3 linked regions of the Homo sapiens genome follow. The protein of the gene in region 3 binds, or shares a complex with, the protein of the main gene of each other region. Each region holds a gene or a part of one and is shown on either strand. Other genes may lie near its edges.

The links.
Region 1: the proteins of PAK4 (region 3) and CTNNB1 are in contact, whole or in part, in a crystal structure (PDB 6WLX), measured with the Homo sapiens proteins. Residues at the interface, in NP_001014831.1 of Homo sapiens: Ser331, Gln358, Thr404, Asp440, Lys442, Ser443, Asp444, Phe461, Leu475, Val476, Gly477, Thr478, Pro479, Tyr480, Trp481, Met482, Glu507, Phe516; in NP_001091679.1 of Homo sapiens: Lys672, Arg673, Leu674, Ser675, Val676.
Region 2: the proteins of PAK4 (region 3) and ITGB5 are in contact, whole or in part, in a crystal structure (PDB 7S46), measured with the Homo sapiens proteins. Residues at the interface, in NP_001014831.1 of Homo sapiens: Gly330, Ser331, Gln358, Arg359, Leu362, Thr404, Lys442, Ser443, Asp444, Asp458, Phe461, Leu475, Val476, Gly477, Thr478, Pro479, Tyr480, Trp481, Met482, Glu507, Glu512, Phe516, Asn517, Glu518, Pro519, Pro520, Met524; in NP_002204.2 of Homo sapiens: Ser762, Arg763, Ala764, Arg765, Tyr766, Glu767, Met768, Ala769, Ser770.

Annotation. Positions count from the first base shown.
Region 1 is NC_000003.12:41,197,162-41,200,906, forward strand, and holds the start of CTNNB1 (catenin beta-1), read left to right. Parts: upstream 1-2,343; 5' UTR 2,344-2,509; intron 2,510-2,560; exon of another isoform or gene 2,561-2,646; intron 2,647-2,981; exon of another isoform or gene 2,982-3,220; intron 3,221-3,229; exon of another isoform or gene 3,230-3,745. UniProt on the Homo sapiens protein: Key downstream component of the canonical Wnt signaling pathway.
Region 2 is NC_000003.12:124,796,641-124,800,385, forward strand, and holds part of ITGB5 (integrin beta-5 isoform a precursor), read right to left. Parts: intron 178-3,745; coding exon 1-177.
Region 3 is NC_000019.10:39,123,764-39,127,508, reverse strand, and holds the start of PAK4 (serine/threonine-protein kinase PAK 4), read right to left. Parts: upstream 1,724-3,745; 5' UTR 1,590-1,723; intron 1-1,589. UniProt on the Homo sapiens protein: Serine/threonine-protein kinase that plays a role in a variety of different signaling pathways including cytoskeleton regulation, cell adhesion turnover, cell migration, growth, proliferation or cell survival.

The sequences.
Region 1 (3,745 bases), on a different chromosome or scaffold from region 3:
TTTTACCAAACTCATGTATCTTGATAATGTATTTTTCTTTGATTTAATGATAGTGTTTGTCTTCATTTCACAGAAGTTATTCATCTCTTATTTTTGGTGAGACAACTAGAACAATTTCTGCTTTATGAAACATGCAAATAAAAATTAGGAGCAATGTTAAATTTAACTAACTTGGTTTAATGCTAGTCAACCAGTAATTCTTCAGTACACTTAATATGATGGGAAAAACAGCATGCTGCATTGTTGCAAATTTTACATTTTCTTTAATAAAATGTATTTGTTTACGGTGTCAGTAGGGATTAAAAATCATAATTCTAAATTTAAAGTATTTAAATTATAGAAAAATGATTCCATTATTTTGGTAATGGAACAGAGAAATACAAATATAGAAACGTTTTTATCCTTTAGATCTTCTAATGGTGCAGATATTTCTTAACCAATTTCAAGAGTGCCTTATTCAAAAACAAAAAACCTGCACATAGAAAAAGCAAACATGTTTTTTTAAAAAAAGCCCTGTAAAAGTGGTTAATCTGTCGTCTGATTTTCAATGTATGACTTTAATCAATTGCATATTCCTTAATTCTGCAAATGACAATTAAAATTAGGAATCAGTACCTGAAAACGCCATTTATACTTTTGAGTTTATATTAGAAACACGGTTTTGATGAAATACCTTTTTCGGTTCAATCTTTTTGAATTGTGACCACAACCAATAGCTACACTTAGATTCTACAGAATTAGTAGGAAAGATACAAATGAGAAGGTCTTTCTAGACAATGGATCTCACTGAACATCATCTTAGTGTGTAGACTTTTTCCACTGCAGTGGCCCACATGTGCTATGGTGACAGACGGCAGTTGGCATTACCACTTATATAGTAAAATATCTTTAAGACAAAAATAAAAGTTATTTAAAGAATACGCTGGCCCTGAAACATGAGCTGTGCCTTAAACTACATATCCTACCTCCATGAGTGAATGAATAAGTGGGTTTTCCGCCTGCATCTATGTGTTAAGACCTATTGTTTGCTTGTATTAATTGTAGTCCTGGGATAAAAGCACAGAGGTAACTTTCACTGCTGCTTTTTGTACTCTCTCCAATGTTTTGGAGGAAAAATAAGCACAAACAATAGCCTAGAGAAACTGAATCGATCATACTTGTTGCAGCTTCGACAAACGTCAATTTTGCTGCATTAGAATGGGAAACATTTTTCAGTCTATTGAAATGAATTACAAACGTTTTTAAATAGAAAATTAGTTAAAAAATTGGAGGCTGCTTAATCGATAGCTTTCTCTATAAACATACTTGGATTTCACAAATAAGTAATACCGTAAAAATCTTCTTCTCCAAAGAAAAATCCCCACAAATAAATCTATTGATACCTAGTGACAAGTGGAACCAGATAAAAATGGAATCTATAAGAATTAACCTAATTGACAGCGCTCTGGAGCTAATCCATTTCCATTAGTTATTTGTTCACAGTAGGTACTCCTAAGGACTTGTTGAATTGCGGGCTTGGCGCCCGTTCTACGGAGAGTTCACAGCCTTCGTGAGTGGGGACAGAAGGCGGCTCGGCCCGGTGATTCAGGTCGAAATTCAAGCTGAACAGCCTGCTGAGAGGTGGGATCCACCATCCGGACAGTGGGGGGCTTTGGGGGTGCTGTGAGACTGGGCTGCGACCCAGGTCCAGCAGGGAGTGTGCGGCACAGACCACAAGGTCGGCGAGGCCCCCTAACCCGCGCCCGGCCGGGAACCCGCAGACCAGCGACGGGGCAGCTGCGGGGCCAGGAGCGCCCCAAGACGGGCGGGCGCTGAACCCGAGCCCCTGCCGCCGCCCTGGCCCCGAACTTCCGCCCTCCCAGGACCTGTCCCGGCCGCCCCGAGCGGTACTCGAAGGCCGGGGCCGAGATGCCACCTTCCGCAGGCCGCGGGAAAGGCGCGCCGAGTCCTGCAGCTGCTCTCCCGGTTCGGGAAACGCGCGGGGCGGGGGCGTCGGGCTTGGGACAGGGGAGGATACCAGGGCCACCTTCCCCAACCCAGGCCGCGGGGGCCCGGCCTCCCCGATGCAGACCACAGCGCCCTCACGGGCTGCCCTCAGGCCGCGCAGCGGGCAGCCGCCAGCCGTCACCCCGGGGAGCGTCCGTGGGGTGCCCAGGCACCCCACCCCGGCCCGGGGCGCTCAGACGGCAGCAGACTGCTGGGCGGCGCGGGGACTACTTTCCACCGCCCCCTCGCGCCCCGCCCCTTGTCCTCGCGCGGCGGAACGCTCCGCGCTGCGCCGGTGGCGGCAGGATACAGCGGCTTCTGCGCGACTTATAAGAGCTCCTTGTGCGGCGCCATTTTAAGCCTCTCGGTCTGTGGCAGCAGCGTTGGCCCGGCCCCGGGAGCGGAGAGCGAGGGGAGGCGGAGACGGAGGAAGGTCTGAGGAGCAGCTTCAGTCCCCGCCGAGCCGCCACCGCAGGTCGAGGACGGTCGGACTCCCGCGGCGGGAGGAGCCTGTTCCCCTGAGGTGCTTGGGCGCTCCTTTCCTTATCCTTCCGGGGCTGCTCCCGCTTCCTCTCGGAGCCAAACTTCGTAGCAGGCGCGCGGTCCGGGCGGCGGGCTGGGCGCAGCCGGGAGGCCTGGGGTTGGGAGCGGGGAGCTCAGGTGGGGGACGGTGAGGGTGGGCCGCGCCCGGGGCGCGGAGGGCGGCGGCCGGGCCCGGGTTCCGGTCGCGCTGCCTCTCTGGGGCCCTGGGGGCATCGCTTGCGGGGAGGGGGCGCCGCGGGGGCGCGTACAGGAGCCCGGATGGCAGGCGGGGTGGGGGTGGGGGTGGGGGTCTGTGGTTTCCGTCCGGGGCTCTGGCCTTGGCCGAGTTTGGGGGAGGGACCCGGTGCCTCGGGATGCGCCGGGCCCTGGGTGGGGGGCGGGGTGGGGACGGGGGGCTCCGCCTTCTCAGCTCTTGCGGCGAGTTGGGGTTCGGGCGCTGAGGCAGAGACGCCACCCTAAGTCCCATCAGTCCTGGGGATCGGACCAGTGGACTTTCTCTTAAGATTTCCTCTTTCATTCTTAAGAATAGAAGTGTTATTATTTTTTTTAATGCCCTGGCTATGTGAGTTTGAATCGAAGCAACTTTAAACCTTAGAGCAACTAAACTCTAAGTGCAGCGGGTGCGATGCGTCAGTAGGGTGAGCACATAAAAAATCCATGTCTTGCACCTGTATTTTAGCGTACTATGCAGGTGAGTGAAAGCAGTGGATAATGTACTGGGAGTCTTATGGATTTATGGTAGTGGGTATGAGACCCTGGTGAAATAAGGGGGTGGAGGAAGGCGAAGGTGATGGCTTACTGTTTCTTACCAAGTGAACTGCAGGATTCAGCCTCTGACTCAGACCGCTTCGAGAATTTTGTTCGTAGAAATAATTTAAATTTATTCAAATAGTTTGATGGCAGCTAAAATTGAATTATAGAGCACGTTTTCTTTTCAGCGGAGTGAATTTTTCCTTCGCTCCAAAGCTGGCCAAATGGAATTCAAGCATTGCAACTTCTTTCAGTGTTTTGTCTGGAGAGAGGACTTTGAACCGAGACTTTTCGAAGTTAAGTTCCTATAGCCTGCTTCTGAATCTGCCAAGCTTGAAAGCTTTGGCAGTTGGGTGTATGTAGTTGTTGCCTTCGTTCTCTTCCCTTTTGGAGGGAGCGTTGTCTCCTACTTTGTATCTTCCAGACATCTGTGGTCTTCCCCCCACCCCTCGAGTTTGTGAGTGGT
Region 2 (3,745 bases), on a different chromosome or scaffold from region 3:
CCCGCTCCCGTTGCACCTGGCGCTGTTGGGTTCCAGCCCCACGCTGCAGCCGCACGTGCAGTTGTAGGTGACCCCCACCTCCAGGCTGTCCCGGAATCCCACCGGCCGCAGGGCAAACACATGCTCCGTGTGTCTGCTGGGACAGCTTCGGGCCTCCAATGATACTTCAAAAGATGCCTGGGCAGAAGGAAGAGAAGGGATATCATGGCTGCGGCAAGCCAGGGTCTCCCATTCACCCAGGGGCAGGGCCCTTGATGAAGAGCAGCTGCGAACTCCAGCCCTCTCCACGCACTCAGGTAGAACCACCAAGATGGCCGGAGTAGGAAGAGACCTCAGAACCAGCAAGCTCCCATGCTTCATGGAGAAGAGAATGCACAGGTGAGCTCACATTTGACAGGTGAATTCTTTAACATTCATTATCTCTTTGCATCCCCATGACCCTGAGGAAATGGGCCCCTGCGGAAAGCTATAGGGCTTCCTTGAGTTCACACAGTTCTTATTCTCCCTTTCTTTTCTCTTCTGTCCTATCCTCTTCCCAGCCCCGCTGCAGATGCCTCTTCTCTGCTCACTTAAAAAGTCATTTGGTGGAAAAACATTTCCTGGGCGCTGCCTCTGTGCCAGGCACAATGGCACTCTCACAGGGTGCCGGGTGAAGGGCACCCACCTGGCCCGCCATAGAGAGGGCTCTGTGCCTGCTGGCAAAGGGCTCAGCTGACTCCAGAGCTTGCTCTCCAGACACCCCCGAGTCCCCCGTGCCCCAATTCCTCCTCTGTGAGTGCTTGTCATAGCTGCATCTTTCACAATCCCCCCATGCCCCTGAGGTCTTAAAGAAGAGTCTCCAACTGATGAAATGCACCATGCACATGGACAGACCTTTTCTTTTTAAACAGAATATGTAAGGAAGTGTTTCTCACTCAGGAGCTTCTCACAGATTGCCTTGAAAACAGGCTCAAGGTGGGCCTGGATGGGTGGCAGATGGTGCGGGAGGGATGCCTGTCAGCTGCCCACAGGGCTGGGATGGAAGGAAAGCAAGAATGAGGCTTGGTCTGATTCAGGAACTAGAGCCTGACTCCCCCACCCTCTCCTCCTCACCCCCCTGAGGAGAGCCATGTGGGGTCTGAATCACCCATCAGGGCCCTGAGAGCAAGTCACTGTGGATTCTATGAAAACGCACAGACAGGTGGCCAGTGTGCCCTGATGAAATGCCGTTGTAAAGTTTTACTCAGGGGTGGGTTCTCCCTTACTCCCTGAACAGACAGAGGCCCGGCCCACCCCACAAACAGACTCACTGGATCTGGGTCCAAATGTCTTTATTTTTCAAAAGGCTCCTCAGATCATTCTGAAGCTCAGAATGGGTTAAAAACCACTTTCAGCTATTACTATTCTTAATTCTATTCTTTCGGCTAGAATAAAGCTTTTTTTTTTTTTTTTGAGGTGGAGTCTCGCTCTGTTGCCAGGCTGGAGTGCGGTGGCATGCACTCAGCTCACTGCAATCTCCACCTCCCGGGTTCAAGCCATTCTCCTGCCTCAGCCTCCAGAGTAGCTGGGATTACAGGTGCGCGCCACCACACGCAGCTAATTTTTGTATTTTTAGTAGAGATGGGGTTTCACCATGTTGGCCAGGATGGTCTCCATCTCCTGACCTCGTGATCTGCCCACTTCGGCCTCCCAAAGTGCTGGGATTACAGGTGTGAGCTACTGCGCCCAGTCATTAAAGCTAATTTTTAAAATGTCATCATTCACTTGATTTACTGGACAATCTTCAGGTAACAATGTTTTTGTTGTTGTTGTTGTTGTTTGAGACAGAGTCTCTCTGTCACCCAGGCTGGAGTGCAGTGGCACCATCTCGGCTCACTGCAGCCTCTGCCTCCCAGGTGCAAGCGATTTTCCCATCTCAGCCTCTCAAATAGCTGGGATTACAGGTGCCTGTCACCATGCCTGGCTAATTTTTGTAGTTTTGGTAGAGACGGAGATGGGGTTTCACTGTGTTGGCCAGGCTGGTCTCAAACTGCTGACCTGAAGTGATCCACCCGCCTTGGCTTCCCAAAATGTTGGGATTACAGGCGTGAGCCACTGCGCCCGGCCCACGATGTTCATTTTTTGAGAACATTATAAATATCTGTTTCTAAACATACAGATCCCTATTACTTTGAGATTTTTACTGGTTCTAAAAGGCCTCCCCTCAGATGCTGTGACATCTAGGGACACGGGGAGAGGGGAGAGGGTATGGGACTGAGCAGGAGGATAGATCCTGCTCTATAAGTCCTGCAGAAAGTCCTGCGTGGCAGCAAACTGCTGTTTCAAAGGACTTGACAACAGACACCCAGGACTCAGCATTAGCCAAGAGGCTCAACAGGAGAGGCTTCTGGATAGGTGAGCTGAGGATAGCTAGGGGAGCAGGATCAGAAGACACTCGGGGGACCAGGCCAGCTGCAGACAGCTTGGGCTAGCTCCACCTTACCTTCCATCTCTGTGGGGTAGGAAGAGTAGGAAGAGACAAAGGGGAGAGATTGACAAAAACAACTCCAAGGCTAAGTTCCAAGGTCTCGAGGTACAGGGAGTCTCTCAAGGTGAGTAAAGATTCAATCCACTTGGACACTGAAATTGGTTAAAGGATAACACGAATAGGATGGGCGTAGTGGCTCACACCTGTAATTCCAGCCCTTTGGGAGGCTGAGGTGGGCAGACTGGGAGGATCACTTGAGGCCAGGAGTTCGAGACCAACCTGGACAACATGGCAAAACCCCATCTCTACCAAAAGTACAAAAAATTAGCCGGGCATTTTGGCACATGCCAGTGGTCCCAGCTACTCAGAAGGCTGAGGTGGGAGGATGGCTTGAGCCCGGGAGGGGGAGGTTGCAGTGAGCCGTGATCGTGTCACTGCACTCCAGCCTGGACGACAGAGTGAGATCTTGTCTCAAAAAGAAAAAAAAAGCAAAACAAAACACTAATAATTATTAGTTGCCAAGTGCCTACTATGTACCAGGCACTGTGCTGGACTTTTCCACAAGCATCTCTTTTAAATGCCCTAGAAGGAAGTGTCCTCATTTTACCAGAGAGAAAACAGGGTTGGCGGGGTTGGTGGATTTAGTCATGCTCACACAGCTGATGAGTGGGGCCAGGCCTAGAGCAGGGCCCGCGCTCTCCTTAGCATATCCACCTCCTAGACGGGGGAATGAGGTCTACCTCATCGGGGTGCGCAGGGAGAGCCAGCCTGGCTTACTAAAGGGACCCCTTGATGGTGATCCCCAAAGTGGTGGCCAGAGGCATCTCCACATCTTTCTGCCGTGGGCTGGGAACGATTTGAGCCTGCAGATAGGATAAGAGTGGGGACTATGCCTGCCCGAAGCCACCCGTGGGGCCATCAAGAATGCAGAGGTGAATGGAGCTTTGAGGGGCAGATGCCATCCCTCCCTTCTGAGGCCCAGAGAGAAACTTGCTTGCATCTCCTATTACTATTTGCTTGAAGCTCCCACAACAGTGACATGCTTGAAGCTACCTGTAGCTTGCTTCAAGTTACAGCTGAAACCCTGTACTTCTAGGGCTACAACTTGCTGGACTTGTGCTCCACAGAGGCATCTGCGGGTCAGAAACTGAATAAACTACAGAGGAATGACCTGGACCAAGAGCCAAAGGCATTTAATTATTGAAAGACTGTGGGGAGTACACACCTGTGAGTATAACCTTGTCTCATGGAAACTTGCCTGCCTTGGGGTTAAAGCAATGAAAGTGAGAGTTAAGTCTC
Region 3 (3,745 bases):
CCACCATGCACCCTAATAATTAAGGTAAGGAGGGAGGTAAGGGCTGGTCAGATGAGAGAAAAAGAGCCTGCAGCAAGGCGAGCCAGGGTGGTCCCGGGCCAGCTGAGAGTGAGCGACCCGTCAGTGAGAGAGGGCAGGGTGGGGAAAGGATTCCCAGCAGAAGGAACAGGAAGGTCAAAGACCGGGCGGGAGGCATGGGCCTGGAGTTGGAGAACAGTAAAGGGGCTGGGGAGAAATGGGCAGAGCCATAAGAAGTGAGGTGGGAGTGACTAAGGACCACAGTGAGAGCTTAGGGTTTTAAGAACAGTGAACACCCCGCTCTGCCCAGGGTACCACCCAGGGACACTCTCCCCAGTCAGAAGCCCGTCGGACTCCCTTGCTCGGACTCCAGACCACCTACAAACACCCTACTCCCATAGGCTCACAGGAATCTTCCCTGCCAGATCACACCCTTCCAAGGAAACCAAGCAGACAATCCGATCCGCCCAGGGAGTGGCCCAGCCCTGCCCAGCCCCCTGCTTCCAGGAGAGACCTAATGGCTGGCAGCGGACAATGTGGCGACCAGGGGCAGGAGCCCTGGAATCACCCAGGCCCAGCTTCGATTCTAACTCTGCCTTCAGCAGAAGCTTCTGAGCCTCATTTTTCCCGTCTGTAAAGTAGGTTCATCTTGAGCACTCACTTCACAAGATTGCAGCAGGAGTGAAATACGACCGGGCACACAGGGCGTGGAGCACAGTGTGAGCCCTCATTAAACATTAACCGACATTATGATGATTTGAGAGGCGGTCGGCCAGAGCAGGGCTCTGGGCCAGAACTCCGGAGTTAGAATCCCAGCGCACAACTTATGCATCGGGTGACCTTGTGCAAATCACTTAACCTCTTAATACCAGGTTAAGACCCCCTAAGACTATAGTGAGGACTGAATAAGCTCATACAAGTAAAGCGTTAAAAAGAGGGTCTAGCCCATAGTGTTTCATGAGTGTTTGCCATTATTATTTGTGGGAGGGTTCCCCCTTCTCCTGTCACCAGGAAGCATCTCTGACCCGGCCCCCCCCCCCCCCCCCGTCCCCCGCAATACGCCCTCCTTGGGTTTTAATTTTTGACTCTGGGAAACAGCTGCCCCGCTGTCAGATTCTCACCTTTGTACCTTCTAGGCACGCCCCAGCTTTGAACCCCTAAAAGACGCCCCCGAACCTAAAACTCATTCATCTGCTCCGCTAGGGGCAGCTTTAAACCTCCAACCTGGCGCCCCTGGGGCTGTGACCTCTGACCCTCGTGGGGGCAGCCTTCCCTCAAATTATTAACTTTGACCCTGCCTTTTTTGAGACTCGCCCAGAACCCCTCGAACGCGCCCCCACTTCGAATTTCAAACTTTGCACTCCCCTTCGCCACGCCCCCTTCGCTGGTTTGATCTCCGACCTCCACTACAACTCCCTCCAGTCTGCGTTAACCCCCGACCCCTCGGACGCGACCCTTCCCTCCACCAGTGACCTTTGACCCCGGCGGCCCCGCCCCCCTCCTCGCGGAAACGCCGTCCCGCCGCCAGCGCCCGGCCCACCGCAAGCCCCTGGCCGGACCCCTTATCCTACCGGCTCGGCGCCGCAGTCGCTCGCGGCCTAACTGCTCGACCTGGAACTCCGCGCCCTCGCGCCTCCCTCAGCTCTCTTGCACCGCCACCACCGCGGACACTCCCGCCGCCATGTTGAATCCCCAACGAACATCCGGGGCTTTCCCCCCTCACCGCCCACCAGTCCCCATAGCAACGAGGCTGACCGGGCAGTGGGCAGGGCCAGTGCGGGGGCGGAGTCGGGCGCCTCTCAGGGCCCGCTCCAGCCTCCGATTGGTACAGAGCGTCCAATCGGAGACCTTCGGGCAGAAAATGCCAAGCGGGGATTGGAAATTTTGGAAAAGGTGCGGGAAGGCTGGCTCCCGGCCCACTGAGGTCCTTAAAGGGGAAATGACTGTTTTCGTGTGATACCGATTTTCTAACTTCCCCCCCAGAAGGAGTTAGGGGCTGGGAGAAAGTAATGAGTTAATGGGCAGAAACAGTTCTTAAGCACTTACTAGGAGGCAGGCACCGGGATAAGTGTTTTACTTGCATTTTCTCGCTGCATATACAACCCTGTGGTATAATATCATTAATACCCATTTTACAGATAAAGAAACAGAGGTTCAGAGGGTGAAATAGCTGGCTTAGCATCATAGAAAGAAGGTAATGAGTTTTGAACGCTGGTCTGTCTGAGCCCGGGAACCTGAGACTGTTTGCTCTTCAATTTTTAAATAAGTTTTTACGAAGTAATTGGTCAAAATATTGAAAACAAACAGCAGACATCTTCTTTAAAAATTTTTTTAAATTTTATTTTTACTTATTTATTTGTCTTGAGATAGAGTTTCGCTCTTGTTGCCCAGGCTGGAGTGCAATGGCGCGATCTCAGCTCACTGCAACCTCCGCCTCCCGGGTTCAAGAGATTCTCCTGCCTCAGCCTCCTGAGTAGCTGGAATTACAGGCGTCCACCACCACACCCAGCTAATTTTTTGTATTTTTAGTAGAGACAGCGTTTCACCATGTTGGCCAGGTCGAACTCCTGACCTCAGGTGATCTATCCGCCTCGGCCTCCCAGAGTGCTGGGATTACACGTGTGAGCCACCAAGCTGGCCTTTTTCTTTTATTTTTAAAGAGAGAGTTTTGTTGTGTTGGCCAGGCTGGTCTCGAACTCCTGGGCTCAAACTATACTCCTGCCTCGGCCTCCCAAAGTGCTGGGATTGCAGGCGTGAGCCACTGCGCCCGGCCAGACATCTCTCCTCCTGGATCTTATTCACTGGACTCCAGCCTTCATGCTGTTCCTGAACTCTTGTCAGGTGCGCTCTCACCTCACAGTCTTTGCACTGGTTGTTCCTCTGCCTGGAACATACTCTTCCCCCAGGTATCCTTATCTCTCCCTCCCTTTTTTCAGGGCTTTACACAGATGTCACTTTCTCTGTGAACTAATTCCCTCGCTCACCCTAAGGAAAGCAGCAAACATCCCTCTCACATACTACCAAACTCTGTCTGCTTTGTTCTTATTTCTCACTCCTAATTGTAGTTATTGCTTGTTGGTTGTCTCCTCTGCTGGAATGTCAGCCCCATGACAACATGGATTTCTGTCTTTGTTCACTGCTGCATTCCCAGTGCCCCAGCACTGTTGGCATGTAGATGCTCAGTAAACATTGGTGGAAGGGCTGTTTGAATGCGTGGTAATTCCACCCCTTCAGAGATACTCTTAAATGTTTGGTGCTTCTCCTCTGCCCCAGAACAGCCACATAGTAGGCATTTAATTAATTTCTACTAATGTCGGTGGCAACAATGAATGAATGATTGAATGATGAGTTAATTTTTCTTTATGTTTACCTATCTTTTTTCTTTTTATTTGTTCATTCGTTTTTTTTTTTGTTTGTTTTGTTTTTTGTTTTTTTTTTTTTTTTTAGATAGGGGTCTTACTCTGTCGCCCAGGCGGGATTGCAGTCTGAAACTCCTGGGCTCAAGTGATCCTTCCAACCTAGCCTCTCAAGTAGCTGGGACTATAGGCATAAGCCACCACACCGGCTAATTTTCTTTCTTTCTTTCTTTTTCTTTCTTTCTTTCTCTTTCTTTCCTTCCTTCCTTCCTTCCTTCTTTCTTTCCTCTTTCTTTCGACAGAATCTCACTTTGTCACCCAGGCTGGAGTGTAGTAGCATGATCTTGGCTCACTGCAACCTCCGCCTCCAG